6 linked regions of the Homo sapiens genome follow. The protein of the gene in region 4 purifies or fractionates together with the protein of the main gene of each other region. This does not show direct contact. Each region holds a gene or a part of one and is shown on either strand. Other genes may lie near its edges. The genes, in order: LIPA, SLC25A25, XPNPEP3, TCF25, STAM and AMD1.

The links.
Region 1: the proteins of TCF25 (region 4) and LIPA purify together in Homo sapiens (affinity purification with mass spectrometry; one large-scale study listed by BioGRID and IntAct). This does not show direct contact.
Region 2: the proteins of TCF25 (region 4) and SLC25A25 purify together in Homo sapiens (co-immunoprecipitation; one large-scale study listed by IntAct). This does not show direct contact.
Region 3: the proteins of TCF25 (region 4) and XPNPEP3 purify together in Homo sapiens (affinity purification with mass spectrometry; one large-scale study listed by BioGRID and IntAct). This does not show direct contact.
Region 5: the proteins of TCF25 (region 4) and STAM purify together in Homo sapiens (affinity purification with mass spectrometry; one large-scale study listed by BioGRID and IntAct). This does not show direct contact.
Region 6: the proteins of TCF25 (region 4) and AMD1 purify together in Homo sapiens (affinity purification with mass spectrometry; one large-scale study listed by BioGRID and IntAct). This does not show direct contact.

The regions. Positions count from the first base shown.
Region 1 is NC_000010.11:89,239,904-89,245,406, forward strand, and holds part of LIPA (lysosomal acid lipase/cholesteryl ester hydrolase isoform 1 precursor), read right to left. Parts: intron 1-5,503. UniProt on the Homo sapiens protein: Catalyzes the deacylation of cholesteryl ester core lipids of endocytosed low density lipoproteins to generate free fatty acids and cholesterol.
Region 2 is NC_000009.12:128,074,732-128,078,231, forward strand, and holds part of SLC25A25 (mitochondrial adenyl nucleotide antiporter SLC25A25), read left to right. Parts: intron 1-3,500. UniProt on the Homo sapiens protein: Electroneutral antiporter that most probably mediates the transport of adenyl nucleotides through the inner mitochondrial membrane.
Region 3 is NC_000022.11:40,859,324-40,864,826, forward strand, and holds part of XPNPEP3 (xaa-Pro aminopeptidase 3), read left to right. Parts: intron 1-225; exon of another isoform or gene 226-1,354; coding exon of another isoform or gene 1,355-1,458; exon of another isoform or gene 1,459-1,741; coding exon of another isoform or gene 1,742-2,671; exon of another isoform or gene 2,672-3,449; intron 3,450-5,503. Other genes in the region: DNAJB7 (dnaJ homolog subfamily B member 7), read right to left, coding at 1,742-2,671. UniProt on the Homo sapiens protein: Catalyzes the removal of a penultimate prolyl residue from the N-termini of peptides, such as Leu-Pro-Ala. Also shows low activity towards peptides with Ala or Ser at the P1 position.
Region 4 is NC_000016.10:89,903,303-89,908,805, reverse strand, and holds part of TCF25 (ribosome quality control complex subunit TCF25), read right to left. Parts: intron 4,689-5,503; coding exon 4,601-4,688; intron 3,869-4,600; coding exon 3,710-3,868; intron 2,613-3,709; coding exon 2,522-2,612; intron 1,564-2,521; coding exon 1,484-1,563; intron 1-1,483. UniProt on the Homo sapiens protein: Component of the ribosome quality control complex (RQC), a ribosome-associated complex that mediates ubiquitination and extraction of incompletely synthesized nascent chains for proteasomal degradation.
Region 5 is NC_000010.11:17,681,391-17,686,893, forward strand, and holds part of STAM (signal transducing adapter molecule 1), read left to right. Parts: intron 1-3,284; coding exon 3,285-3,360; intron 3,361-3,441; coding exon 3,442-3,537; intron 3,538-5,503. UniProt on the Homo sapiens protein: Involved in intracellular signal transduction mediated by cytokines and growth factors. Upon IL-2 and GM-CSL stimulation, it plays a role in signaling leading to DNA synthesis and MYC induction. May also play a role in T-cell development.
Region 6 is NC_000006.12:110,886,768-110,892,270, reverse strand, and holds part of AMD1 (S-adenosylmethionine decarboxylase proenzyme), read right to left. Parts: intron 4,767-5,503; coding exon 4,680-4,766; intron 3,936-4,679; exon of another isoform or gene 3,865-3,935; intron 3,415-3,864; coding exon 3,288-3,414; intron 2,018-3,287; coding exon 1,915-2,017; intron 111-1,914; coding exon 68-110; intron 1-67.

The sequences.
Region 1 (5,503 bases), on a different chromosome or scaffold from region 4:
CCATGCCAAATTGCCTGTCTTCCCTGCCCCTCTCTGCCACCACGGCCTGTCCTCAGACAGCTTTGCAGCACAGCAACTTGAGTTCCAGAGCTTCACAGTTGAGCGAATTTTGGGAAATTATCCAGCTCTCATCCAAAATTCTCCCTCAACAGAAGGAGCAGAGGGTCCACAGAAGAAAGCACCTGCAGGGGACACAGGGCTAGAAATGACACAGTGCTTGTCACCTGACCCCCAGACATAGTTCTATGACATTTCTTACTTTTCTTACTTCTGTCCATTGTAAACAAATGCATCTTCCTCCTGTCCACACAGTTTAGAATACATCCCTGTCATGGAGGGCTTAATCCTGAAGAAGTCAATATCAGAGACCACCATCAAATCCATGTTGACATTTCAAAATTAAAAACAGAGGCTGGGCACCATGGTTCATGCCTGTTATCCCAGCCCTTTGGGAGGCTGAGGGAGGATCATTTGAAGCTGTAGTAAGCTATGATTGTACCACTGCATTCTAGCCTGGGAGACACGGTGAGACTTTTAAAATATTTATGTATTTATTCATTAATATTTTAAATAAATAAATGTTGTAAAAGAAATTGTATCACCTGCACTTACTATACTGCATATATTTCACAGGCCTTATCAAATTTTCACAACAGCCTACGAAGTAGCCAGTATTATTCTTCCTGTTTAATAATTGAATAAGTCAAAACTTCAAGAGGTAAAGAAAATTGCCAAGGTCACACAGCCAGTTAAATAGTAGAGCCAGAACTTACACCCATGACTGGTGGCTCTTCACATGCTCAGCTTAATCATGAGGCAATACAGCTTCAAGTTTTACCCACCACAGGAAGCATTTAAGTTGTGTTCGTGGACTCCTAGGAGCCCAGGAGTAGGAAATCCTTCATGCAGTGTGCCCTTGAGCAGGGGACACTATTAAATCGCAATGTCACAGGAGGGCTGCAGGAGCATGCTTGGGTAGACTGCAGCCTGGAGCTAAAGCAATTTACCAAGTAAAGAGAATCAGAAAAGTCTTCATCCCCGCAGAGTCTGGTGGGGATGACAGAGGTCACACACATCATCACCTACATAATAATATATTGTTTATTGTCTTAATTGCGATGGAGAAAAACACAGAGGACTATAAGAATATGTAGCCAGGGGCCTGACCTGGTGTGAGAGGCTGAGGAAATCCTCCCTGAAGATGTGAAAATTAGGTTGAGAACAGAGGACAGGTCAGAGCGGTTAACCAGGAGGAAGAGGAGGGAAGGGGACAGGGCAGAGCACTATCTTCCTTTCCACTTGGCTTTCTGCTCTGATCCCAACCTGGGTCTATGAGATAAGCTGTACAGCTGACCTCACTTATGCTGCTCCATTAGGCAAAGGTTCTGAATGCAATCCCCTACCCAATGCGCCATCAGAGTGCTACATGAGCCTGAGCTCAGCCCAAGTCACCAAGCTCAGGCATTGATTAATGAAACCATGTCTGTTCGGCACCACCAGGGGTGAGGAATTACATCCCAGATTACCAACGCCTATGTGTAGCCCGTTAGAGCACTGCAGTGATTCAAAAAATAGTTTCTTTAGAAGTGAAGGATTTTTCTATAAGGAAAGAAAAATCTAGAAATCAACCAGAATTCTAAAATAAACAATCAAAGCAAAATACAAGCTGATGGTCTCCTTCTAAAGACTTAACTCACAAGCCACGCTGTGAATTTTCAGCTATGACTCTAATAGCTCAATGGACAACCCCTGGGGAATCTTTGCTGAGGCCACAGTTGAAAAGCCTGTTTCTGCATGCTGAAGGCAGTCATTCCAGGCTTTCACAGTCTAGAGTGCCACTTCACCCACTCGGCAATCAGATGCATAACTTTCAGATACAAATGTGCCACTCTTGGTGTGTGTATATATATATAAAATATATATTGTGCCTATCATGGCATCAACTTGGTTAATATTTATTATGTAAGGCCACATTCTCCAGTTCAAAGATCACTGAATCTGTAGTCAGACAGGTCAGGACATGACCCTCTGCCCTGAGACAAATTCATTTCCCTATTTGAACCTGGCTGTCTTATCCAACAAAATGAGGATGTTAGTCTAGAACACAGGTTGCCAAAACCAAGAATTCTACCTTGGAATCCACCAGTGAAGTGTGTTTAAAAAAAAACAAAAATCCCTAGCCCAGGCAGGAATCTGAGATCCCTCCAGTGCTAACTCCCCATGACTTTCTGAAATAAGGCTGAGCAGATGAAAACAGAGCCACTTCCCTATGAAGTGTAATTTCTGAATTTCAATTCCCTTCAGGAGCAAAGCATTGCTCAACACTTCCTAAGAAGGTTGCTTAATGGTGGGAAACAGCATGCACATACTGCACGAGTAGCCAAGGGCTACTACTGTGCAGAATGGAGGTGAAAGGTACAAATACCAGCTGGACAGAATATTTAAGGAACAGTGTGTATCTTCATTTCTGAGACCCCTAAAGATTGCTGAATGGCAATTTCACATCATTATAGCTAAGCTTTAAGAAACTTAATCCTGCAAAACCACATAGGATGAATGAGAACAGGAAGCCTGGCAGAGAAAAGAGCAGTTAGGTAAAGCCTTTAAGCAAACATGAGCAGAGAAGCCATGTGGCCAAGCCCTGTGTTCATAAAAAAAACCTGATCTCCAAGTGAGGCTACACAGTCAGTCAAAGAGGCCCATGGCAACAGGACTGAAAGATGCTCACCATTCAGCTGTAGACTCAGGTTCCACAAGGAATGTGGTACCAAAAAATGAATAATGTTTTAATACATTTTGTAATTACTTGTAAATAGTATGAATGTATAGCAGTATTTTTGTGTGTATTAAAAGCATTAATTTCTTAAACTATATAAGCAAACTGAATTTCCATAATCCTGTCTTGAAATTCTTTCTTTCTGTTAGTATACGAGGAGCCTTGAAAATGGAAATGGCTCAAGACTCTCTCAGCTGCTGAGCTTATTTCAGGCGCCCAGTTAAGTGGTAACAAGAGCCTAATGTAGGCTGGTGGTCAGGGAAACAGAAGAAAAAGATGAACTGAAGCAATTTAACGTGGGTGGCCTAGAGAGGACCCGTGGTCAAGAATGATTCTGCAGATTCCAGGCTAGGTCATTAGGAGGATGCTGGTGCTATTAATAATAGAGGAGGAAGTCAGGAGGGGAAGCGGGATGCATGAGAAGAGGACGCGTTTCACTTTGGGTGTGAAAGGCCTTCTCCATTCTTTTTATCTATTTGCCTTTAAACACCGGAAATAACACCAGTGGCAACAACCTTGCTCTTGAATAGGAGTGAAGGACAGTAAAGAGCCTCTGTCCATGCTCTGTTTTAGAATGTGGAAATGCAAACCATCAGGAAAGCGCCTATGCAGTTCTTAGGAAAATCACAATTCCTTTAGAGAACTGAGTTGTTCACTGTAGACTTCCTTGAAGACTCCCCACTGAGGTTAGCTCATAGCAGGTATGACATACACATCAGTGATCCCCTACAGGGAGGGCCTCTCAGAATAGAGAAAGAACATGAGGACCAAATGCTATGAACAGATTTAGCTTAGAGTAAATACTTTCAGTCTATATTCCCCCATTCTAAAGACCTAGACTCTCCACTCTCCCAATCCCCAACCCTCTTGCCAAAAATAAAATAAAGTATATATAATATATCCCACAGAGGTTAAAAAAAAAAAAGAAAAAACAAAGCACACAAGAAGTCAGGGGCAAACCCAGGTGTAGCACCAAGGTCCCATAAGTCTCCTTTCTATTACCTGGGAGCATATCAAGACTCATGCTCACTTTCTTCATATTCCAGGGCACTGCACCTTCCCCTGCAACAGTGTGATACACACAGGTAGGGCATGTGACTCTGAGTGTTTTAACCACTGTATGGAGAGAGAAGTCTGAAGCTGGATATAGGAGGAGAGCTCTCAGCAAGTTTTACTGAGATGCTTACCATCATTTAACAGTGATTCACGTTACTAATTAATCAACTATAATTTTAAGAAAAATAATATAAAGCATTTTTCTTTATACAGTGTCTGAAATCAGTATACAGGGGTTATTCTTTGGGGGAAAAAAAAGGAAGGAAACCAAGATCATATGCTCGCTCTAGCATAAAATATATGTTTTGAGTGTTTTGAGCACAGGAAAAACTAAAAGCTCTCACTATAACTCATCACTCATTTTATAACATATTTATAAAAAGGAAGCTTAATGGCATATATCTGTAAAGCATAAAAATCTCAAGAGTTAGAAATCAAATTTCAAAAAAAATGGTTGTCGTGGCCACCTAAACATTATTAAAATCTTATTACAGCTAGAACACATGGAAGAAAAAAGTTAAACTAGGATAAATTAAGAAAAAACAAAGCAAATAATAATACAATGCTCACATTAACACAAAGGGTGTTTAAGTTTGCTTTGAATAACAATTTGGGCAGGAATTGAGGCAAAGGTGGCTCTTTTGCCCGTATAACACTTAAATTGAAGAATAAATAGCTATCTAACTACCTTAATCTAAACCTTAATTTCCCCAAGAAAAGTCTCCAGAAACAAAAAAATGTTAGAGAATAAGCTACATCTTACTTGAACCTGGGAGGCGGAGGTTGCAGTGAGCCAAGATTGCACCATTGCATTCCAGCCTGGGCAACAAGACCGAAAATCCGTCTCAAAAAAATAAATAAATAAATAAGCTACATCTGGAGAGATAATTGAATAAAGATTAGATCCTTCTTCTGATAACTGCTTAATAATTTCAATCAGTCTGTCTAGAAATTCCTTTATCTGCACTGGAAACTGCAGTTTTGCTTGAGTTATAAAATGAGAGAGAGAAAAAAGATATACATATATATGTATATATATACTTTTTAAGCCAAAGCTACAAGAACTTTCATATATTCATAGTGATAGTAATTATCAGGACACATGCACATGAAAATCAGCTTGGCAATATATATCAAAATCACAAATGCATATATCCTGTGATCCAAAAATTCTACTTCTGGACATGTATCATGTAAATAAACTTGCACACACAAAAGCTTATTTACAGCAGCAATATTTGTTAACAGAAGACTGAAATAGCACAAATATGCATTAATAGGACACTTGGTAAATAAATAATGATACAGTCATATAGTGAAATATCATGCACTTCTGGAAGATGTGCTTTATGTATTGTATGGAAAGATCTCCAAGATATTAAGTAAAAAATTCAAAGAACAAAATAGTGCCATCTTTTGCATTCAAATGGAGGCAAGGGAAAAATAAGAATCTGTGTGTGTATTTGTTTCTAATGAGATTTTTGGAAATAAAAAGATTTTAAAATGAAGTTATTTCAAAAAGATACACAAAAAAGCAGGAAGTAGGGAGTGAGAGAGAAGGGAGGCATTTCACTGTATGTCTTCTAATTCTCTGATTTTTAGATTATGTGAATTCAAAAAAATTAAATAATTTTTAAATAGCAAAAGCCATCTATTTAATGCTCAAAACAT
Region 2 (3,500 bases), on a different chromosome or scaffold from region 4:
ATATGAGGCTGGCCATGATGGCACTTTATGAGGCTGAGGTGGACAGATGGCTTGAACCTAGGAGTTCGAGACAAGCCTGGGCAACTTGGTGAAACCCTGTCTCTACAAAAAATACAAAAATTGGCTGGGCACAGTGGGTCACACCTGTAATCTCAGCACTTTGGGAGGCTGAGGTGGGCAGATCACTTGAAGTCAGGAGTTCGAGACCAGCCTGGCCAACATAGTGAAACCCCGTCTCTACTAAAAATACAAAACTTAGCCAGGCATGGTGGCGTATGCCTTTCTGTAGTCCCAGCTACTCAAGAGGCTGAGGGAAAATTGCTTGAACCCGGGCAGCGGAGGCTGCAGTGAGCCAAGATCACGCCACTGCACTCCAGCCTTGGAGACAGAGTGAGATTCCATCTCAACAACAACAACAACAACAAAATTAGCTGGGCATGGTGGCCCATGCCTGTAGTCTAGCTACTCGGGAGGCTGGGGCAGGAGGATCGCTTGAGTCTGGGAGGCTGAGGTTGCAGTGAGCAGAGACTGTGCCACTGCACTTCAGCCTGGGCAACAGAACAAGACCCTGTCTCAAAATAGATATAAATAGAGAATGAGAGAGCACGAGCCTGTCTGATCTGGAGCTTCAACTAGATGAATTTTTTTGATGTTCAAAGAGTTATTACTGGCCAGATGCAGTGGTTCACACCTGTAATCCTAGTACTTTGGGAGGCCAAGATGGGTGGATCGCTTGAGCTCAGGAGTTCAAGACCAGCCTGGGCAACATAGCGAGACCCCCATCTCTGTTTTTTATAAAATAAAAAAAAGAAAAGAAAAGAAAATGGGGGCCAAGTGTGGCGACTTACACCTATAATCTCAGCACTTTGGGAGGCTGAGGCAGGCAGATTGCCTGAGGTCAGGAGTTCGAGACTAGCCTGGCCAACATGGTGAAACCTCATCTCTACTAAAAATACAAAAACACTAGCCAGGCGTTGTGGTGTGCACCAGTAATCCCAGCTACTCGGGAGGCTGAGGCAGGAGAATCACTTGAATCCAGGAGGCGGAGGTTGCAGTGAGCCGAGATCGCGCCACTGCACTCCAGCCTGGGTGACAGTGCGAGACTCTGTCTCAAAAAGAAAAAAAACAAAAAAGAGTTATTACTTGTTGAAGTCTCACATCCCCACAAGGGAATGATAGAAACAAATATTTTGCTGGTATTCATTTCTTCATTTCTATTCCAGCTGAGTCTTGAATTCCTGGGCTCAAGCGATCCTCTTATCTCGGCTTCCCAAAGTGCTGGGATTACAGACCTAAGCCACTGTACCCAGCCAACTTTTTATTTTATTTTATTTTATTTTATTATGCCTGTGACACAGCCTCAGGGGTCTTGATGACATGTGCCTGGCAGCCAACTTTTTATTATTTATTTATTATTTGAAACAGAATCTTGTTCTGTCACCCAGGCTGGCGTTCAGTGGTTCAATCACAGCTCACCGCAGCTTTGACCTCCCAGACTCAATCTATCCTCCCACTCAGCCTCCCAGGTAGCTGGGATTACAGGTGTGCACCACCATGCCCAGCTAATTTTTGTATTTTTTGTAGAGACGGGGTTTTCCTATGTTGCTCAGGCTGGTCTCGAACTCCTGAACGCATGTGATCCTCTCGCCTTGGCCTCCCAAAGTGTTAGGATTACAGGCATGAGCCACCACGCCCAGCCTAACTTTTTTTTTATTTTTATTTTTATTTTTATTTTTATTTTTATTTTTTTTTGAGACAGAGTCTCTCTCTCTCGCCCAGGCTGGAGTGCAGTGGCGTGATCTCAGCTCACTACAAGCTCTGCCTCCTGGGTTCACGCCATTCTCCTGCCTCAGCCTCCCCAGTAGTTGGGACTACAGGCGCCCACCACCACGCCCAGCTAATTTTTGTTGTATTTTTTAGTAGAGACAGGTTTTCACCATGTTAGCCAGGATGGTCTCGATCTCCTGACCTCGTGATCCACCCGCCTCAGCCTCCCGAAGTGCTGGGATTACAGGCGTGAGCCACCACACCCGGCCCTAACTTTTTGTTTTTAACCATTAATTATACTAATGCGAATTTGGCAGAACCATAGAATTTAGTCTTGGATGGGTGACGGGCCATCATGGTCACTAGCCAGCCTTCCACCCAACATGGAGATAAGCTCTCCGGAAGCATCCTTCGCAGATGGTCATCCGCCCTTTCTATTGTGAACCTAATTGGAGTCACTGTGAGTTCTCTGTCATGTTAGACTGAAATCTTGTATCTGCTGCTGCCCATTGCCCCATGTGTACCTTCAGGAGCAAGACAGAAAAGTGATCCAAGGGCCCTTTATCTGAAATCTGTGGTCTTATCTTCCTATAATCTCTGCTGCTGCTAAAAACAGGTATCATCATGCACTTCTCAGGTGACGTGCTGTCCATACCTTACAGTTCCCTTAGCTGAGACAATAACCCATGGGGTTTATAGTACAGACTTTCCTCGGAAATGTTACGCTGATTGAAAGAAGCCAGTCGCGGCCGGGCGCGGTGGCTCACGCCTGTAATCCCAGCACTTTGGGAGGCCAAGTCGGGTGGATCACGAGGTCAGGGGATCGATACCACGGTGAAACCCCGTCTCTACTAAAAATACAAAAAAAATTAGCCGGGCGCGGTGGCGGGCGCCTGTGGTCCCAGCAACTCGGGAGGCTGAGGCAGGAGAATGGCGTGAACCCGGGAGGCGGAGCTTGCAGTGAGCCGAGATCGCGCCACTGCACTCCAGCCTGGGCGACAGAGCAAGACTCCGTCTTAAAAAAAAAAAAAGCCAGTCGCAAAGATCATGCACTGTATGATCCATTTAGGTGAAAGTCCAGAATGGAGAAGTCTACAGAGACAGAAAATTGAGTAGTACTTGCCTACCTGGGAGTGGGGTACTGGCGGGTAGAGAGATAGGAAGGTGAGATGAGGTTTCTTTTTGAGGTGTTGGAAATATTCTCAAGTTGACTGGAGTGATGGTTGCACATATCCGTGAAGATACTGAGAACCACTGAACTGTATACTTTAAATGGGTGGCTCATGCCTGTAATCCCAGCACTTTGGGAGGCTGGTCAGGAGTTCGAGACCAGCCTGGCCAACATGTAGAAACCCCAGCTCTACTAAAAATACAAAAATTAGCCGAGCATGGTGGCACACATCTGTAATCCCAGCTACTCGGGAGGCTGAGGCAGGAAAATTGCTTGAACCTGGGAGTTGGAGGTTGCAGTGAACCGAGACTGCGCCACTGCACTCCAGTCTGGTCAACAGAGTGAGACTCTGTCTCAAAAAAAAAAAAAAGGGTGATTTGTATGGTATGAGACCTGGGTTCAAATGTTCCTTCTGCTGCTTGCTAGCTGAGTGACCTTGAACAAATGACTCACCCTCTCCAAGTCTGTTTCCTTATCAGAAACTTGTTGGTATGAGGACCTACTGCATAAGGGGGGTGTGTGGGTTAAATTAGATAAAGCATAGAAAGAGCCCAGGACTGGG
Region 3 (5,503 bases), on a different chromosome or scaffold from region 4:
TTTGAGGAATTTTAAGCTATTGAGTAAGATGATTAAATCTAAATTTTTGGTTTTCTGTTAAGAGTGAAGAAATGGACTACAGGGCATGTCATTACATTCTTAAATTTTCTGAGACACTGATTTTTGCTTTAGTTTTTGGAAAATTGCAATTTTTTTTTCAACTTTACTACCACATGCATGATAACAGATAAACTCTACTAAATATCACATCTTATATTAGAAGCATTTAAAATACCCTGGGCTTTTATTATTTTATTTTCTGAAAATAAACTTTGAATACTAATTGTCCGCAGTCTCTTCTATAGAATAAATAACCTTTCCTTCTCCCATCTGCCCACTAAAAATCAAATACCGATACAAAACACAAGCTCTTGACTATAGCTGTCTTTTAAAAATAGCAGATATTATAATTTTTTTCTAATTTCGCATTTGTATTTGGCCAAAGTTGAATAAGTTTTAGTGCTGCTAGATGTAACTCAAACCATTTGCTCGATATCTGATGTATTTGTAACCCATCTATTTTTCTCCCAACATGACTAAATTAAAATGGCTATAGGTGCTATTTTAGAGTAATGTATTTGTAGATTTTGTGTACAAACTCTAAACAAAAATAGAAAATTTCCTGTCTGGAGTGATTCACTGATGGCCTACCATACAGACTGCTCTGAGGAATTCAGGATAAGACTGGCCTTTAAAAAAAATGTGGTAAAATATACTACATAAAATTTACCATGTTACCCGTTTTTTAATTTTTTAAATTTTCTATAGTTTTTCTTTAGAGACAGGGTCACACTCTCAGCTGGAGTGCAATGGCAAGATCATAGCTCCCTACAACCTCAAACTCCTGGGCTCAAGCAATCCTCCCACCTCAGCCTCCTAAGTAGCTAGGCCTACAGGCACGTACCACCACACCCAGCTAAATTTTTAAAAAAGTTTTTTCATAGAGGACAGGTCTCATTATGTTACCCGGACTGTCGTGAAATTCTGACTTCAACCCTCCTGCCTGGGCCTCCCAAGATGCTAGGATTACAGGTGTGAGCCACTGCACCCAGCTAAGTCTATTTCTAACTTAAAATACTTTATACTTTAATTTTTAATTTGTAGTACCTTTAAGTTATAATGCATCAAATGCTGTTCCTCCATTGGAAAACAGCCATTTCATGAATAATTGTGTAGTCTGAACCTGTGTGTCTTGATACATTCTTGTCTTCTAATGCTATGCATGTTTCGTAAGTTTGTATAGTGGTTTTAATTAGAAAAAAGAAAAATAGGCTATAAACTCTACTAAAGAAAAATTCAAAAGTAAAAAACTCATTGCAGTTTTCCAAATTCCTTTTTTTTTTTTTTAAGACAGGGTCTTACTTTGTCACCCAAGCTGGAGTGCAGTGGCGTGATCCCATTACACTGCAACCTATGTCTTCCAGGCTCAAGCAGTCTTTCTACCAGCTTCCCGAGTAGCTGGGACTACAGGTGCACACCACCACACTTGGCTAATTTTTAAATTTTTTGTAGAGAAAAGATCTCACTATACTGCCCAGGCAAATTCTTATTAGCACCAACTGTCACCACAAACTCATCCTTTTCTGACATACCCATTCAAAAAAACTACTAACCAAATGTCCACAATCCTGCTAAAAGTGTTGAAAAGCTCTTAGTATAGTATTAAGTGTTATCTACAAAATTTGTGATTAACCAAAACACACACAATTGTGTTCAAATGTTATATATTTGAAGAGTCAATTTAACAATTCCTTTTGGTAGACTTCTTTTGCACCTCTTTACGCTTCTTTTTTTTCCTCTTACCACCCTCTTTGACTCCTGCTGAGAAAATAGGGGGATCTCTGTTGCTGGTAACCCAAGATATACCTCCCTCATCATTGTCCACGAAAGTATATTGAGATACATGTTTGGAGCTGTGAGAATTTGGTGAATAGTTGTTGAATGACTGTGTTCTCCAGCTGCATTCTTTTGCAAAGCCCTCTTCATTGGCCACACTATTTACAAGAAAAAATGTCAACTCTCCATTATCTTCAGCTTCTCTTTCTTGATCACTTTCAATAATTTTCTTTGTATTAATATTTCTGCCATTAACGATTTTGTCTGAAGTTGTAACAGATATGTAGTTGTCCATCCCACTATTATCAAAAGCCAGGGAAGAGAAAGAAGTAAGGCCTTCATGCCCCAATGAACCCTGTGATGTATATCCTGTATCATATGAAGAAAATTTCTCAAAAATTGGATATTCACTGGCAGTGGAGAAAAAGTATCCTGCATCTCTGTTTCTGTTTCCATAGGAGCTTCCTGGACGATTTAACAGGTCCTCAAGCGAGTCTTCAAAGAAGTGAAAAGAAAATGGATCCCTTTCATGAAAAATTTCTTTAAAAACATCATCTGGCTTATGGAATGTGAAGCCGTACTCACATTCATCATCAAAATGACTTCCACCTCCGTTTAATCCTTCTGTGCCATATTTATCATAAATGTCCCGTTTCTCATCATTTGATAATACCTCGTATGCCTCAGCTACTTCTTTGAATTTTCTCTCTGCTTCTTCTTTATTTTCTGGATTTTTATCAGGGTGCCATTTAAGTGCCACTTTATGATAAGCTTTTTTAATGTCCTCAGGTGAAGCATATCTTTGCAGTCCTAGAACTTCATAGTAATCCACCATGTTTTAACAGATAGTTGGAAGTGGGTGTGCTGGGTATTGAGAACCGTGGTTTCCTCAGCTCAGGCTCTGCTGGTGGTGGTGATAGAGGTAGTGACTGCAAATAGGTACACTTTTATGTTAAAGACAATGTTATTACCATGTGCTAAGAGATGAGGATACTGATTATGTGGCAAGCAGAGTTACAAATATGTCAGAGAGGGCTGCATTATGGTGTCATTCTGGGGTCAGTGTAGGGACTGGACCTTCCAAATAGAGCTAGTCCAGAGTCGTACCAGACCATCCTGAATCCTCTGGACTGTTTCCCCTGTATGTTTCCCTGGAAGCTTCAGGCAGTGCCTCATAAGCCAATGGAATCTGTTGCTAATAGCCACAGCATATCCCTTGCATAATATGACCTCTAGATTACTGCGCCTTAATTGCTTCCCAGCTCTTCTATGCTTTGGTTTAGAAAAATGAAGTACTGACTTACGGGTGAAGAAAGTATTCAAACAGTTGACATATTTATTTCAGTCAAGAAACAGTTCAGAGGGAGATACAAACAAGTAACTTAGTTACAATATAATAGTTATGATGAGAGGAAGTACTGGATGCTAAACAATTATATGAGAGACAGCTCAGGCTGGGGGTGTCAATGAAAGCCTCTTGGAGGAAGTAGCCTGATATGTTAACTTTCTGCATGCCAGTGGTAAGTCATTTGAGATTATAGTATCTTTGTCCACCCAAGGTTTACTGCTGTAAAACATGTAATTAAAGATTTGGAAAGTTGTGTGTTTATGTATTCACTGTATAATTATTGATTGTCTACTTTGTGCCAGGCACCGTTTTAGCCACTGGTGATAGCAGTATTGAACAAAAGACACCAGTTTTCCTGGTGCTTGCATTATAATAGAATACAAATAGGAGAACAAATAAAATAATTTAAGATAATGCGATATGTGCTCCAAAAAAAATAGCAATGTGCTGGGGGCAGAGCGCTACTTTAGATTGGTTTTAGAAGGCTTCTGAGGAGATGACATTATTGCTGAGACCTATATGACAGTCAGCCACATAGTGATCTAATATGGTAGCCACTGGCCATGTTGATGGACATTTTGGTTGTTGCCAGTTGGGGCTGTTGGACATAAAGCTAGCACTTATTTCAAGTACAGTGGGAAGCCTTTGTGGGGAGTGGGGAATATGCAAGTTTAATGATGTGATTTACATTTGTAATGGATCAGTGGCTACTATTTGGAAATTCAGTCATGTATGGGAAAGTAGAATTCGAGAGCCAAATTAGAAACAGACCAAAGGTGATTTTCTTTGGGGATAAACTACCAGTAGTCTAGACCCGAATTTAAAGGTCTTATATTCTATACCTGGCTCATTTTATTGTCTGAGAAAATTCCCTGTAATCTTTGTTTTTCCTCCTCTATGTTGTGTTTATTTTATTTTCCATCACATTTATAACCCCTCAGTTAAATGATACGCTAATGAAATCTAAAACTGTAGTGTATGCTTCTAGTCTTTCAAGACCATTTGTCAGGTCTGAATATTTTTTTGCTTTGCATTTTTATATATACTCATTTTTTAGAGGTATTGTGAAATGCTTAAAACTCAATTTAAATTCTCTCCAGTGTATGTGCTTACATGTACTTATGTGTGGCTTACCCATGATTATAATTTGCCTACCACTGGAAATAATAACCAATAATGTCGAAAATTATTTGAGTACCCTCTGAGTCACACTGTAGCAAGTGCTCATTTAACTGACACAGCACTCTAGCAAAATAAATATTTTATGCCCATAAGAAAACAGACGTTCTGAGAGAGAAAGTAATTTGTCTAAGGCTACATAGCTTGTTAGTGAAAAATCTGATTTTTAAACTTGAGTCTAATTTCAAGTTCTCATTCCACTCTACTGCATTTCTCGGACTAGGACTTAAAGAGTTTAGGTTCTAGGCATTCCACAAACAGATACTGAGAACCTGCTGTTACCGGAAAGGGGTCCCAATCCAGACCCCAAGAGATGGTTCTTGGATCTCGTGCAAGAAAGAATTTCAGTGGAATCCACAGAGTAAAGTAAAAGCAAGTTTATTAAGAAAGTAAAGGAATAAAGAATGGCTACTCCATAGGCAGAGCAGCCCCAAGGGCTGCTGGTTGCCCATTTTTATGGTTATTTCTTGATTATATCCTAAACAGGAAGTGGATTATTCATGCTTCCCCATTTCAGACCATATAGGGTAACTTCCTGACGTTGCCATGGCATCTGTAAACTCTTGGGGTGCTGGTGGGAGTGTAGCAGTGAGGACAATCAGAGGTTACTGTCATTGCCATCTTAGTTTTAGTGGGGTTTGGCCAGCTCCTTTTTTTAAGAACATCACAGGTAAAGCTCACAGGAAGGTGACAGTCTAGGAGAAGATGTTCGCAGTGTCTAAATTTGACAGGGACTTATTTTATTTTCATTATTATTGTTACTATTATTATTATTTGAGGTGGAGTTTCGCTCTTATTGCCCAGGCTGGAGTGCAATGGTGGGGTCTTGGCTCACTGCAACATCTACCTCCCGGGTTCAAGCCATTCTCCTGCCTCAGCCCGCTGAGTAGCTGGGATTACAGGCATGCACCACCACGCCCGGCTAATTTTGTATTTTTAGTAGAGAGGGGGTTTCTCCATGTTGGTCAGGCTGATCTCGAACTCCCAACCTCAGGTGATCTGCCCGCCTCAGCCTCCCAAAGCGCTGGGATTACAGGCATGAGCCACCGCACCCAGCTGGTCAGCTTCTTTACTATAACCTACCTGTTTTATTAGCAGGGTTTTTGTGTCCTGCATTTTGTGCTGACTTCCTATTTCATT
Region 4 (5,503 bases):
GGAGCTGGGAGGTGGAAACTGGGAGGAGGGAGGCGGGAGCTGGGAGCTGGCAGGTGGGAGGCAGGAGCTGGGAGCTGGGAGGCGGGAGCCGGGAGGTGGGAGCTGGGAGGCGGGAGGTGGGAGCTGGGAGGAGGGAGGTGGGAGCTGGGAGGTGGGAGCTGGGAGGTGGGAGGTGGGAGCTGGGAGGTGGGAGCTGGGAGGAGGGAGGCGGGAGCTGGGAGGTGGGAACTGCGAGGAAAGAGGTGGGAACTGGAAGGTGGGAGGAGGGAGCTGGGAGGTGGGAGCTGGAAGGTGGGAGGTGGGAACTGCGAGGAAAGAGGTGGGAGCTGGCAGGTGGGAACTGGGAGGTGGGAACTGCGAGGAAGGAGGTGGGAACTGGAAGGTGGGAGGTGGGAGCTGGGAGGTGGAAACTGGAAGGAGGGAGGTGGGAGCTGGGAGCTGGAAGATGGGAGCTGGGAGGTGGGAACTGTGAGGAAAGAAGTGGGAACTAGAAGGTGGGAGGAGGAAGCTGGGAGGTGGGAACTGGGAGGAGGGAAGAGGGAGCTGGGAGGTGGGAGCTGGGAGGTGGGAACTGAGAGGAGGGAGGCGGGGTTGGAAGGTGGGAACTTGGAGGAGGGAGGCGGGAGCTGGAAGGTGGGAGCTGGGAGGAGGGAGGCAGGAGGTGGCAGGGGAGGTGAGAGGAGGGAGGCGGGAGCTGGGAGCTGGGAACTGGGAGGAGGGAGGAGACAGGGGCTGTAAGGTGGGAGGCGGGAGCTGGGAGGTAGGAGGTGGGAGCTGGGAACTGGGAGGAGGGAGGCGGTAGCTGGGAGGTGGGAGGCGGGAGCTGGGAGGTGGGAGCTAGGCGGCGGGAGGAGGGAGGTGGGAGCTGGGAACTGGGAGGAGGGAGGCAGGAGCTGGGAGGTGGGAGGCGGGAGCTGGGAGGTGGGAACTGGGAGCTGGGAGGTGGGAATTGGAAGGAGGGAGGAGGGAGGTGAGGTGGGAGGTGGGAGGAGGGAGTTGGGAGGTGGGAGCTGGGAGGTGGGAGGTGGGAACTGGGAGGAGGGAGGCGGGAGCTGGAAGGTGGGAGGCGGGAGCTGGAAGGTGGGAGGCGGGAGGTGGCAGGTGGGAGGTGAAAGGAGGGAGGTGGGAGGTGGGAGGAGGGAGCTGGGAGCTGGGAGGTGGGAACTAGGATGAGGGAGGCGGGAGCTGGGAGGTGGGAGCTGGGAGGTGGGAACTGGGAGGAGGGAGGCAGAAGCTGGGAGGTGGCAGCTGGGAGCTGGGAGATGGGAGGTAGGAACTGGGAGGAGGGAGGTGGGAGGTGGGAGGAGGGAGGTGGGAGCTGGGAGGTGGGAGGTGGGAGGAGGGAGGTGGGAGCCAGGAGCCGGGAGCTGCTAGGTGGGAGCTGGGAGCTGGAAGGTTGGAGCTGGGAGGTGGGAGCTGGGAGCTGGGAACTGGGAGGAGGGAGGTGGGAGCTGGGAGGTGGGAACTGGAAGGAGGGAGGTACCTCTCTGGCCTGACGTAGGAGTAGATTGTGTCCGAAGGAGGCAGAGGATCAAACCCCATCACAGACTGCGTGGTCACGTCCTTCAGAAAGGGACATAAAACGAAGATGCTACAGATGCTGCCAGGGGGCCTCTACCTCTCCCAGCAGAGTCCTTCTGTCGACTCCAGCATGGACTGGATGCATCTGCTGAGAGATAGCCACAGAGTCTGACAGAAACGGCTGTGCTTTTTGTACCAACGAGCTTTGGGTGAGGGTGGGACAGTCCTTCTGCCACCAGGACACTCACGGGAGTCGAGATGAACCTGCACGGCGTCTGCCCTGCACACCAGAGTGTGTGGTGGGGAAGGAAGGGGGTCACGTGCCGCTCAAGCCTGCCAACATCTTCACCACGTGTCAGAAGCTCCCACTTCAGCAAATGCAGGCTACAGGGACCCTGAGCTGCCCTCGGGTTGCACAGTGCCACGTGCTGCCACTCTACTGAGGAGAGTCAGAAGCTCACAGCCCCAGACAAAGCCAGCCATGCCGGTCATAAGGGCCCGCAGAGCAGCTGAAGTTAAACCAGGAGGCACTAAGCTGTCCCCAGTGGACGGTCCACGGTCCTGCGACCCTCTGACTTGCTGGTTTTCTCACTCGTTCTATCTTATCCCTTAACAACAGTACAAACTCCTTAGGTTTTGAGACAGAAACGGCACCTCCAGCACAGGAGGCGTCAGAGCAGGACTACACCCCACGACTACAGAGAATCCCCCAGCAGCCGCACCACGCGCTCACAAGACCACGGATGGAGCAGCTCACCACGGTGACGACTCAGCTTGTGCTCTGAGCCCCAAAGGATTTCTCTCTCAAAACAACAAGCATCCGAACCCGGGCTGCCAGGAAAGGAGGAGCCCTCTGCACTAGACCCTGCCCCTGCCGTGGCGGGGCTGGGCTGCTGAGGGAGCCCGCACCACGCACGCCTGCATGTGGACCGCCCGGAGCAGAAGGGACGTGCATGTGACCGGCTTACACAGAGCTCCCATTTCAGCCTTTCTCCCTTACCGGGGGCAGGGCAGCGACGGCTTCCTTGATCTCAGAGAGGATCACATGGCGGTGGATATTCCTGGGTGCACGCTGGTAGAGCACCTTCCGCCTAGGGCCGGGGAGAAACAAGGCACAGCAGATAAAGCACAGCAAATGAAATGGTAACCGCCATGGAGCCTCGGCCCCCACCCCCACCCAGCACGAGGCATCTCGCTGCATCTCTGGTGGCTGCAAAAACTGTACACTTTACTCTCGAGCAGAGGCACCATGGCTGGTCCCTGGCCTGCGGCTGGGGAGCCTCTGGGGACCAATCCCAGCCACATGGCCAGTGACTCAGCCTCTTCATCCAAAGAACAAGAACGATGAGAGCCGTAGCCAGTGGCTTCTTGTGGGAAGTCACTGAGTTCATCTCCATGAAGGGACACCTGGGTGTGTCACCATCGTCACTGCTACGGCTACAGGCACAGGCACTGGTCCCTGCTGGAAATCGCTCTTGGAGAGCAGTACAGGGAACAAAATGCTCCTGTCCATGAGAATGTCCAGTCCAGTGGGGACAGCAGACACGCGGACGGGCCCATGACTGCCAGCGGCTGGGGGCACCAGCGCCTCTTGGGCACCCCCGGGCACACCTCATGTCCGCGGCACACAGACTTCACTGTGGAGATGCAAATGGGCACCACTCCCAGGCGGTCCTGAGCCTGGCCACACCACTGCACAGAGCCACGGTGCTGATGCACAGAACTAGCACAGGGCCAAGGGCGCAGACAAACGAGACAAGAACAGCAAGGGGATGCCTGTCAGTTGCAGCATATTAGGGCATGAGCCTCCGAAGTGTTCACACACAGGACAGGAGACTCTTTCTCGTCTCTGCCAGATTTCTTTACTCCCAAGATGCTGCTGTGAGAGACTCGTCATCATCTCACAGCTCATGTGGAAACACTGCAAGACCCGAAGGCACCACTCCAGCCCGAGGCACCCGGGAACAGCAGCTCGGTACCCTGCGCTGATCACCACAGCTGCCTCCCAGGAAGCCTCTGGGACACGCCAGGGGCTGTGCGCTGTCTTGTAGGCTCCACACAGGCCCCACAGCAAGGGAGGCCAAGCTGCTCACAGCCCTTCTCGCCTCCCGAATGCGAGGCCCCCGTGTCTGGGATGAGGGTCCCTGAGGAGGGGGCGTGGCAGGGCTTGTGTCAACCCCTAGCTCACCGGTTCTCACAGGCTTCCACGGCTGGGTCCCCGGCGTCCACTGCTTGCAGAACCTCGTGGACGTTCTCCTCCAGCCAGCTCATGGTGGCGGGCTCTTTCCAGAGAAAGTGTGACCTCCCAAGGTACAGGTTCACCAGCTGGCTCAGGGCAGGGGGCTGGCTGGGGGAGAGCAAGGGCTCTGAGCAGAACCCCTCTTCAGACCACAGCCTGCCTCGAGGCTGGCAGAGCCCCATGGATGGGCAGACGGGGGGTCCAGGGAGTGCCCTGTGGCCTGGAGTGAAAGGAGGCCCCTGGGCTGCTGGCCTGAGGGCGTGGGGCTGGGGCACACAGGTATGTGCCGTGAGCCTGTTGGGCAGGTTATGTTCTTTAGGAAGCAGGACTGACGTCACAGAAATGTGAAAATGCACCCAGGGCGGGTCCATCTGCGTGCACACAGGGCGAGCCCTGGAGGGCCAGGGGATGACCCCAAGGCGTGCACTTTCTCCTGTGTTTGCTCCCTCTTTGTTTATTTTGTTTTTTGAGACGGGGTCTCACCATCACCCAGGCTGGAGTGCAGCAGCACAAACACAGCTCACTGTACCTTTGACCTCCCAGGCACAAGCCGGCCTCCCAAAAAGCTGAGATTACAGGCATGTGCCGCCACGCCTGGCACCCTCTTTATATGAGCCTCGTTTTTAAGCTGGAGGCTGCTCAGCTGTCCCACCTGGACTTTTCCACACAGATGAGGGCTCCAGAGCCGTCCCATGTCAAATGACAGTCCCCGAGGCCGCCACCACAGCCCCTCCTGCTGCTGGAAGCAGGTCCCTCAGGGCCTCTCAGGATGAGTGAAAATGGCTCCCAGGCTCCGAACCCACAGGCACCCACAGATGGGCACCACCAGCCACTCTTTACCTTATTTCAGCATTGGGTCCAAAGAAGCGGTGACTGGAAACGCTGGCGTCGGGCCGCACACTGCAAGACTCGAGCAGGGGCAGGAGGACTGCAGGGGAAGCGGAGGCTCTGTGGGGGCCCTCAGCACACACCCCAGCCACTCCTAGCCCCCAAGGCAGTAAGGGACACAGCGAGGTCCTTGTCACAGACACAGCTGTTCTAAGGTGGAGAGTCTGCAGGGCCAGCGGCTTGCTTCCGGGTGGTATTCTGAGTTGCTGCTGCTGGCGTGCCCAGGGTCTGAGGCTGGGGGTCTCCTTCACACCAGCCCCAAGGAGGCTGCCAGGGCCCCCATTTGCATCCAAGGGAAGACTCACCCACCACCCTCCACACACATGGGGTTGGGTTTTTTTTTGTTTTTCTGAGACAGGGTCTCACTCTGTTGCTCAGGCTGGAGTGCGTTGGCGAAATCTCGGCTCACTGCAACCTCCACCTCCCAGGCTCAAGCGATTCTCCTGCCTCAGCCTCCCGAGTAGCTGGGATCACAGGCGCACACTACCACGCCCCGGTTAATTTTTGTATGTTTAGTAGAGACAGGGTTTCACCATGCTGGCCAGGCTGGTCTTGAACTCTTGACCTCAGGTGATCCACCTGCCTCAGCCTCCGAAAGTGCTGGGATTACAGGCGTCCGCCACCACACCCGGCTAATTTTTATATTTTTGGTAGAGAAAGGGTTTCACCGTGTTGACCAGGCTGGTCTCGAACTCCTATGCTCAAGCGATCCTCCTGCCTCGGCCTCCCAAAGTGCTGGGATTACAGGCGTGAGCCACCGTGCCCGGCCGGTTGGATGTTTTAATCACAAAGACTGGACCCCATGGCAGGCTGGTGGGAGCGGAGGCCACCTGTGCCCAGTGGAAGAGCCAGCAC
Region 5 (5,503 bases), on a different chromosome or scaffold from region 4:
TTCTATATTTCTTTGTTCTTTCAGATTTTATTCTGTCTTTGGAGAACATGCTTTCTATGATTTTTTATCTTTTTAAATCTGTAGAGACTTGTTTTATGGCTTAACATTGTTTATCATGTGTAATATCCATATGCCCTTGAGAATAATATATTGTATTATTTCTAGTTCAAATAATTTATAGATGTTGATAATGTATTGTGTTATTAGAGGAAAATATATGTCATTTTAATCTGATGATTTAATATTTTGAGGCTATCCTTTTGACTTATATAAAGAGCTCCCTGTTTATGTTATCTGAATTTATTGGGAGGCATATCTGTGTCCAGAACATAGCATGTTTAAGTGACAGGTATGAATCTTGTTAGTGCCTATTACTGCCTGGTAACTGGCATCATGGGCAAGGAACTGAACTTCAGTAAATGGAGGACTTGGTTTGCTGTGAATGTTTTGAACACTGAATGAGTCCTTTGCTTATTATATAATTTTTGAGAGCCTAAGCACATGATGTTTCGTAGGTTATATGAATGATTACTCTGCTTTACTATTATCATTAATTACCATAAAGCATCCCCATGAAATGCATGTTTGCTACATTCTTGGCCTGTCATTTAAATAGATCTGTTTTTACTGACCTGTGATTTATCTACAACAAAGAGCATCCCTTGTATGTGTATGGTTTGATAGTTTGATGAGTTTTGACAAATATATATACCTATATAAGTATCACCCCAACCAAGATAGCATTTAATCACTCCCAAAAGTTCCTTCCACCTTATGCAAGTACTAATATGCATTGTCACTATAGATTAAATTTCCTTTTCTAGAATTTCATAAAATGAAATAGTATTGTCAGTACTCCTGTGTCTAGCACTAAATGTGTTTCTAAGATGAATTCAAATTTTTGTATGTATCAATATTCCTGTTTCTTGGGGAAGAGGTATTACATTGTGTTAATATATTACAATTTATCCATTCATCTGTTGATGGGCATTTGGATTGTATCCAGGTTTTGACTCTGAACAGAGCCTCTGTGAACATTCTTATAAAGAGTACTGGGTAGTATGCTTTCATTTTCATGTCCTTAAGGGAAATTATGGTTCTGTGATTTCATTTGTTGTAAGCCTTAGATATTTGTTATTTGATTTCCAAATATTTGGGTATTTTTATGCTATCATTTTGTTATCAATTTGTAGTTTAATTTTGTTATGGTCAAAGAATGTACTTTGTATGACTTTAGTCCTTTTAAATTTATCAGTGTTTGTTTTATAGGACAGAATGTAGTCCATTTTGTTGAATTTTCCATGCACATGAAAAAAAATGTGTATAATGCCATGGGTGGGTGGATTGTTGTGTAATGCCAGTCAGGTCAAGTTTCATGATAGTGTCATTCAGGTATTCCATATCAGTACTTTTTTTTCTTGTGTTATCAAGTCATTGAGGGGGCATGTTGAAGTTTCCAGTAGATTTGTCTGTGTTTCCTTTCGGCTGTATCGATGTTTCCTTTATATATTTTGAAGTTCTATTTTTGTGTTCATGCACATTTAGAATTATGTTTCCTTGGGGGACTTAACCGTTTTATTATTATGTACTGTCTCTCTTTATCCCTGTTAGTATTCCTTGTTATGAAAACTGCTAACGGTAGTGAATAGATAAAAGTGTAGTTGGATTACAATCTTAATCTGCCATTTTTCTAGATGATTGGTTATGTTTCTTCTGTTTTCTCTTTCTGTCTTTTGTGTATCAATCAAATGGTTTTTATGGTTTTATTTTTTTGATTTAAAACTTTGTTTTGAGACAGGGTCTCACTCTGTCTCTCAGGATGGAGTACGGTGGTGCCATCACAGCTCACTGCATCCTCGACCTCTGGGGCTCAAGTGAACCTCCCACCTCAGGCCATTCACTGCGCCCATAGGAGCTGGGACCATTTCTGGCTAATTTTTGTATTATTTTTTGTAGAGATAGGGTTTCACAGTGTTGCCCAGGCTGGTCCCAAACTTCCGGACTCAAGCCATCTGCCCACCTCGGCCTCCCAAAATGCTGGAATTATAGGTGTGAGCTGCTGCACCCAAGCTATTTTATTTTCATTTTTCTCTTAAAAATATTTGTAGTGGTGGCTCTGTGTTAAATTTTTTCATTTTTTTTCTCTCTGTACTTCAGTTTGGGTACTTTCAGCATATTTTCAAATTTACTGATCTTTCATTCTTACCTGATTAATTCCATCCACTTTTTAATTTTACATATTTTTTTGTCTCTAGACTTTTATCTGGGCCCTTTTTAATATATTTCTTCATCATTATGTGGATGATTTCCAGCATGCTTATAATAGCTTATATAAAGTCCTTGACTGCTAATTTCATCATCTTTGTTATTTCTGCATTCTCAGTTGACTGAATTTTCTGCTAGTTGTGTATGGTAGTTTTCTTCTTCATATCATGTCTTCATATCATTTTATTGAATGCTTAGTACTTTGAATTTTATATTTTTGAGCATCAGGTGTTGTATTCCTGTTAAGGAGTATTGGACTTTATTTTTTCAGAAGTGGTTACATTCGTCTGTGGCTTATGTTGTTAGGCAGTATGTAGGTATGATTGAGCTGCATTGCTAGGGTCTAAACTCCCCTGTATATCCACTGAATCCTCTGGATTTTCAATAGATGCTTCACTGTGGCCTCATCTCTGACGACTGTGTGAGCGTTGGATCTCTTTAGCATATCGCCCTCGGTCACTTTTTGACCAGTTTCATGGAGTTTTTCACCTGTGCATGCGTGGGTTTTTCAGAAGGTCTTCACTGATACTTGGAAAGTGCCTCTAGGCAGAAAGTTGAGGCAAACTTCTGGCTTATCTAATTCATTTTCCTTCTTGGATATTATCATTCAGTACTGCCTGTGGCCTCATGTCTTTAAAAAGTTAACCTCAGTGTGGAAAATCTGTTTTTCCAGTTTTCTAATTGTTTACAACGGGAGTGTAAGTCTGGTCTGTTTTTCCACCCTGGCTGGAAGTGGAAGTCATGGCCTACCATTTTATTTTCAAACCTTTTTTTTTTTCCTACCCAGAATTAGCCTGAAATGCCTCATCTACGATTACTAATAAGAGAGCCTGTTAATTTTGTTTGAAAAATTTAAAGGAACTAGTTTACAGTTTTTCAACCGTGTTATTAATAAAAATTAAATTTCCCTACTTTATCATAGTCTCCCTTTTTATCGTAGTCTTTTGTCTATAACAGTTAAGGGGCAGGGGGAAGCTAGATGTATTATTAAGTAATTTTTACTTTTCTCATTTTTTTAGACCTAAGGATTGTCTTCGGTCTATTATGAGAAGAGTGAACCACAAAGATCCTCACGTTGCTATGCAGGCTTTGACTGTGAGTGGTTTCATTTTAATCTGTACCACGAAATTACCTGCCACAATTGAGCCCCTTTAACTTCTGATTTTGTGCTTTTAGCTTCTAGGAGCATGTGTATCAAACTGTGGCAAAATTTTTCATTTAGAAGTATGTTCAAGAGATTTTGCTAGTGAAGTAAGCAACGTATTAAATAAGGTAAGGAGCATTATTTCCAGAAATTAATTAAGGCAGTCTTCTTTCTTCACATATTTTATTGTTTAAATCTTCACAGAGGACTATTCTGTGCTTTTTAAGAAATCCTTTCTAGGCTGTGTCTATCCAGTATATAAATAAATATTATGTTTTGTTGAAGAGACTGCGGATTCATGTAACTTTGAGTTAGTTTTTTCAAGCCATATTAGAGTGTTTTTAACCTGTTCTTTTCCATCATACTTTCATCTGATAAGAAAACAGGTATTTCTATATCTAATTAAATAATATCAGTCTATTTTACATACTGTTTTTGTAGGCACAAGGTATTTTCCTAATGGAAAACCTTTCAGAAACACTGCAAAAAGTCTATGGCACCGTTGAGTTTTTATCTTTATCAATAAGGCTGCTTCCTGGCCATCACAGGATTTTAATACTATACTGCTATTCTTACTGGCTGAACCCACAGCTGGAGTTGCCTCAAAAGTGGTGGCGGGGGAGTTTCCACAAGGGACTGCCCCAAACTGTTCCAGATAGGGCCAGATGAGAGTCCAAAAAAAGAGGCACTAAATGCCAGGGTGATCAGTCTAAAGGATTTATTAGGGGAACTTACACAGGAGGGCTGCAGTTTATAGGAGGGTTTAAGGAATTTGGCTCAGGGTTGGGGCTGGTTTCTGTGTGTTTAGCAACATACTTGATCTTTTAGTGTTTTGGGCCACAACCTGAACAACTTTATCAGTGCCTGAGAATGTTCAAGGCCCCAGTTTGGGTCCAAACCTATGGTGGAAAACATGCAGCTGGCTAGGTCACAGAGCGGGACAAGGCACTCTGTTTTTCTATTGGGACACAGAAAGAAAGCAGGGAGAACTGGGGACCCTACAACTGCCCACTCAACTGTAGAATTCTAGTCACACAGTTCAAGAAATTTTTCAATTTTCAATTAGTAATATGTGAGTTTCCCCAGTAAAAATTTGTGCATTCTAAAAGTAATTATTTTTGGCCTTTTTAGGGGGAGTACTGTAAATCAAGAAAAAGTTTTTGTATGTTAAAAGGGAAAATGCCTCATGTTTTTGGGAAAAATGAATAGTTCCAGGTTACAGTAGAAAAATAGCAGTATAGAAATATAGTAAGAATGTAAAATTCTGTACTTTTCGAACATCATGGTTAAATGATAATTCTTTCCCTTTCCTGCTTTATGCAGTTAATATTTATTTTCTACTAATTAATAAACATTGTCTTTTAATGTCCTGAATGTCCATCGAGATTACAACTGTTTATGAAGAGATTCTAATACCATGTTTTTTGTAATGTAGGTGAAAAATGTGGTATACTTACCTATGTATAATAGTGCAAGCAGCCATTTCCAAAAACGACTTCCTATAGGCAAGAGGACTTCTCTTTATTTTCTGAATGTTTTACAGTGAACATATTGGTTTTGTACTTAATAACATCCCGCCTTTTTTTTTTTTTTTTGAGACAGTGTCTCTCTTTGTCACCCAGGCTGGAGTACAGTGGCGTGATCTCAGCTGACTATAGCCTCTGCCTCCCGGGTTCAAGTGATTCTCCTGCCTCAGCCTCCTGAGTAGCTGGGAATACAGGCATGCGCCACCACGCCTGGCTGGTTTTTGTAGTGTTAGCAGAGATGGGGTTTCACCATGGGGATGGTCAGGCCAGTCTCGAACTCCTGACCTTGTGATTGCCCACCTCGGCCTTCCAAAGTGCTGGGATTACAGGCATGAGCCACCGCGCCCAGCCAACATCCTGCCCTTTTAAAAAATTTCCTTTTATTAAACAAATTAAGTTCATGTATAGTCTCAATAAAGCGTTTGCAAATCCATTATATGCTCCTTGACCAAAATACAGATTACATGTGCACTTAGAAAGAATTTTTTTTCTTCTAATAGAGTAATCTAAAAGTCTAACCTTCTCCATTTTTAAAAGCTTTAGCCAATTATTTAGTAAGCATTGGTTT
Region 6 (5,503 bases), on a different chromosome or scaffold from region 4:
AAATGACAATTGGCAGTTTAAATCTTACATAGGACAACAAAAATCCACAAAATTGCATTAAACATACCAACAGTCAGAATTCATACGTCCCATACAATATGCTGCTCCATCTGTTGAGGGAAGAGAACGCAAAATAAATATAACACATCCATTTAATAGGATGGTTTGTTACTACCCTTCCACAATAAGCAGAATGATACTATTTGCCACTTATTAGAAATGTCATCCATCAGTGGACTGGGCATAGTAGCTCATGTCTATAATCCCACCCCTTTTGGCAGGGAGGCAGAGGTGGGCTTGAGGTCAAGAGTTCGAGCCTGGCCAACATGATGAAACCCCATCGCTACTAAAAATACAAAAAGTAGCTGGGCGTGTTGGCACATGCCTATAATCCCAGCTACTTGGGAGGCTGAGGCAGGAGAACTGCTTGAACCCGGGAGGCGGAGGTTGCAGTGAGCCAAGATCACGCCACTCCACTCCAGCCTGGGTGACAAAGCGAGACGCCATCTCAAGAAAAAAGAAATGTCATCAGTGAAAGGAATGGAAACAGTAGGTAAATTCCCAGATAAGCAGGATCGACTGACTTGGCGGGTATTTGCAGTAAATACCCAACACTCTGATTAGCCTGGTTTGGTTTCATATTAGTAGATGTGCTAAGTTCAATTTTCATGCTTATGAGCGACTTTGTGCAAAGTTACTAAATTATCTTAGGTTTTCAGCCTTATCTAGGAAGTAAGGATGTTATCAGATAACCTTTGTTCCCTGACCTCTATAAATAAAAGCTTAGTAAATGGATGAAAGAAACCCTTACGAATTTCATTCAAGAAACACTAATTTACACTGTGCAATTTTAAAAAGCCAGGTCAATTATTATATAAAATGCTGGAGCAGAGCACTAGGCATTTTTCTGAAGGGAATCATATCCTTCTTCATATTGTCAAAGGACATTATGATCTGTATGTTAAGAACCACTGAGGCTGGAGGACTGCTAGAGGGCAGGAGTTCAAGACCAGCCTGGGCAACACAGCAAGATTCCATCTCTACTAAAAATAAAATAAAAATTAGCTGGGTGCTTGAACTCAAGAGTTTGACAATGCAGTGAGCTATAATGATGCCACTGCTCTCCAGCCTGGGAGACAAAGTGAAACTTGTCTCAAACAAAAACGCAAAAAGAACCACTGAGTGAGACATAAAGTAGAGTGAATGGCCAGATGAAGATGAACTCTCTCTATGCTGTATGAAAAATCAGAGGTGGCAGGTGATCAATTCTACATTTTAAAATTCCATCATTTAAACAGCACTGATTTATGATACACAATTATTTTTACATGTGTATACATAATTTGCAATAAGCTATTAATCTTAACTAAAAATATTTTATCTGATATTTTAATGTTCTTTATAAATTCTGCATATTTTGAATTACAAGCTATATAAAGATCACTACTGTACTCCCAAAACATCTAAGTCAAAGTAAATATGGACCAGGTGCAGTAACTCACACTTGTAATCCTAGCACTTTGGGAGGCCAAGGCAGGTGGATCCCTTGAGCCCAGGCGTTCAAGACCGGCCTGGGCAATATGGCAAAACCTTGTCTTTACTAAAAATTAAAAAAAAATTAGCCAGGTGGGGTGGCAAACATCTGTAGCCCCAGCTACTTGGGAGGCTAAGGTGGGAGGATCACTTAAGCCTGGGATGTTGAGGCTGCAGTGAGCTGTGATCACACCACTGCACCAGCATGGGTGACAGAATGAGACCCCTGTCTAAAACAAACCAAAAAACCCACAAGAAAAGCAAGTATTAGTGTGTGTAGAATGCTATATATGCATAAGTATGCTCTCATATAGAAAGATCTCTGAGGTTGCACTTTCTATCTTTAAGAAGACAACAGGTTTATATTTTATTTAAACTTACTTGGGAAAATTGCATTAAGAAACTCTATTTCTTCCTGGAAATTCCGGTGTGGGTACCCTTGGTGAGAAGGCTTCATGAAATTCTTACGAGAATAAAAGAAGCTCTTTATTAAAAAAGAAAAGAAAGAAAAAAAAAGATGACTTTAGATGTAGAATTCTATCACTTTTCGAAGCTAATCAACTATTGTCCACATATCAAAAACTCGGCAAAATCAAAACTCAAATATTTTAGCTTGGCATGGTAGCATATGCCTGTAGTCTCGCTATTAGGAGGCAGGAGGATCACTTGGCCCAGGAGTCCAGCCTGGGCAACATACTGAGGCCCCATCTCTCTCTCTCTCTCTTTTTTTTAAAAAGCCCAGTCTAGTGATGATGGGTCATAACAACTATTAACACCAAGTATATTCCTTTCTAGAACAGTAGTTTCTAAACTGAGCTTATTAATAGTCATATAAGCAAAAATTTGGGGGGAATAACATATTAGTTTTAAGCATCGGTTAAGCACACATTGCTTTAGATTTCTTACAAGGATCAATTCATAACAACAAAAACTGTATTGAGTACTAATGACAATCCATCCTTTCCTTATGAAGTTAAAGATTAAAATTCAGGCCGGGTGCAGTGGCTCACGCCTGCAATCCCAGCACTTTAGGAGACTGAGGTGGGTGGAACACCTGAGGTCAGGAGTTAAGAGACCAGCCTGGCCAACATGGTGAAACACCGTCTCTACTAAAAATACAAAAAAAATTAGCCAGGCATGGTGGTGGGCACCTGTGATCCCAGCTACTTGGGAGGCTGAGGCAGGAGAATCACTTGAACCTGGGAGGTGCAGATTGCAGTGAGCTGAGATCGTGCTATTGCATTCCAGCCTGGGAAACAAGAGCGAAACTCCATCTCAAAAAAATAAAAAATAAATAAAATGTAACAACTGCTAATCAGAAAATTATACCCTAGGTAAAAACACCTTAGTTCTTGAAAAGTATAAGAATTTAACTCAATACTGACTGTTGCTCTTCATCCTAACTCTTCATTATAAAGACTGGACAATTTCAGTAACGACATTTTTCTTGCTTTTCCTTCTTTTCTTACCATTTCTCTATTATTATAAGTAGCCATGTTAAGAAATTAACTACTGGAAGTGTCTGGCTTCTTCATTTCTTTCTCCCATTTGAATTTCATCCTAACTCATTCTCTGCTTCCTATTTTCTGCTGTTCTTGAGAATCAGATCTCTTCCTAAGGTATGAACACCTTACCACGTGTTTGCATGCATTGTAACAAAGGCAGTAAGTATATAAATTTATTTACTTCGCATATTACAGGATAAGAACGCTAACATTTATGCCTGAAAAATATTTAAATGTTTGCTTACTTACTTGAATTGAGTCAAACCCACTGTAATCCCTAGCAAGCTTCAACAGGGGAACCAGTGCTTTCAGCAAGAGGGTGGTACCACATGTCTTCAAAATGAAACGTCTCTTGGAGACAAACATGCTACTCTCACTGCAGTTGAAAAAAGTCACAATATTATAACAATACTAATGTACTACTGAGGGTGCAATCAACCAATTTAATTATCATTTACAATTTTGGCTAGTACTTTTAAATATTAGGATCTCAAGGAAGCAAGTAACACATTATTCTTTTCCTTTTCTAGTATACAAAACATCCCCAGGGCTTGGCACATGGTAAGCATTTTGATAAACATTCGTATATTCATAATATAAACTTAGTTTAAAAAAAAAAAAGAGAGAGGCCAGGCACAGTGGCTCACACCTGTAATCCCAGCACTTTAGGCGGCCGAGGTGGATCACCACGTCAGGAGTTCAAGACCAGCCTGGCCAAGATGATGAAACCCCGTCTCTACTAAAAATACAAAAATTAGCCGGGCACAGTGGCAGGCGCCTGTAATACCAGCTACTTGGGAGGCTGAGGCAAGAAAATCGCTTGAACCTGGGCGGCAGAGGTTGCAGTGAGAGGAGATTGCGCCAATGCACTCCAGCCTGGACAGACTGAGACTCCGCCTCAGAAAAAAAAAGGGGGGGAGGGGCTGTTTAGTCCAGTATCCCCCAGCAAGGCCCATCACAATATATACTATAAGCATTAAAAGTATTTATGGAATAAATTAACTCTGCAACTACAAAAAAGGTGATGAGCTTTTATATACCAATTAGACAACTGTATTTGTATAGAGAAGCTAACTTTCCCTTTGCCTGAACTTCTAATTAAGAGGTCCTTCTTTACCAATTGGGAGGAAAAGACGGCAAACACCTTGAACTGTCCGGTGAGGCTTCAAAACCTATGTCCTAGAAACATCCACGTTACACTAAATGTTTCCTTTTATACCATATTTTTAAGAATAATGTAAAAAAAAGGCTGGGCGCGGTGGCTCACGTGTATAATCCCAGCACTTTGGGAGGCCGAGGTGGATGGATCACCTGAGGTCAGGAGTTCAAGACCAGCCTGGCCAACATGGTGAAACCCCGTCTCTACTAAAAATACAAAAATTAGCCGGGCATGATGGAAGGTGCCTGTAATCCCAGCTCCTCAGGAGGCTTAGGCCGGAGAATTGCTTGAACCAAGGAGGCGGAGGTTGCAGTGAGCTGACATGGCGCCATTGCACTCCAGCCTGGGTGACTGAAACTCCGTCTCAAAAAAACAAAACAAAACAAAAAAACCCCCAGAACTACAACTGAGAGGAACTTAACTGTTTCACATTATGATTAGGACTGAAATTAGCTACCTAACACTTGTTTTACAGGACTTACCTGAGTACATAAGCTTCCTGCTTGTCAGTTTTTGTCACACTTATGATTGAACATTGCACATCCTTCAAAAGTATGTCCCACTCAGATCTATCATTTAACAAAAAAGTTACGATTAATCCACAATAGTACCCACCTACTCATAAAAATTACAAAGCTCACACTTTTTCTCATGAAGACCACATTTTTAATTAATATTGTACACCAACTTTTAGTTTCTTTCAAAATAATCTATATTGACACACCCAGATAAATGATAGGTATATTATGCTATATATGAAACAAAAATTGGTCATTATACTATGTATTTACAAATTACTTAAAGAAAAATAGGCAAAAAAATGTTCAAAGGTCCATAAACCAAGGTAAACCATTAACTAATCAATGATTACAGAAATTCAATGGGATACTTTGTCTATAAAATGTGCAGATTTTTAACCTTAAGAAACACTTAAAAAAAAAGAAGAGCATAATTTTACCAATCTAATTGGCATAGAAATTTAAAAGCCTGTCTGTCGGGACACAGTGAGTGATGTTACTCTTATAGCACTCACAAAAAACTGGAATGACTGCCAATTACAAGCATACCTAGAAGATTTTGGGAATACTACGCAGCTCTCCAAATGCAATGAGAAAGCCCGTTTAACAGGAAATGTGCAGTACAAGCAACCATAGCAATGAAGGTCATATGGACATGAAGAAACTAGTCTTAATTTGCCTGAGAATAGAATTAGGAAAGTGTTCATTCTTTCATTAGTGTGCCCATTATAAAAAGACAATGTAATTCCATGGAACAGCTTAACATGACAGATATTATTTTTTGAGAC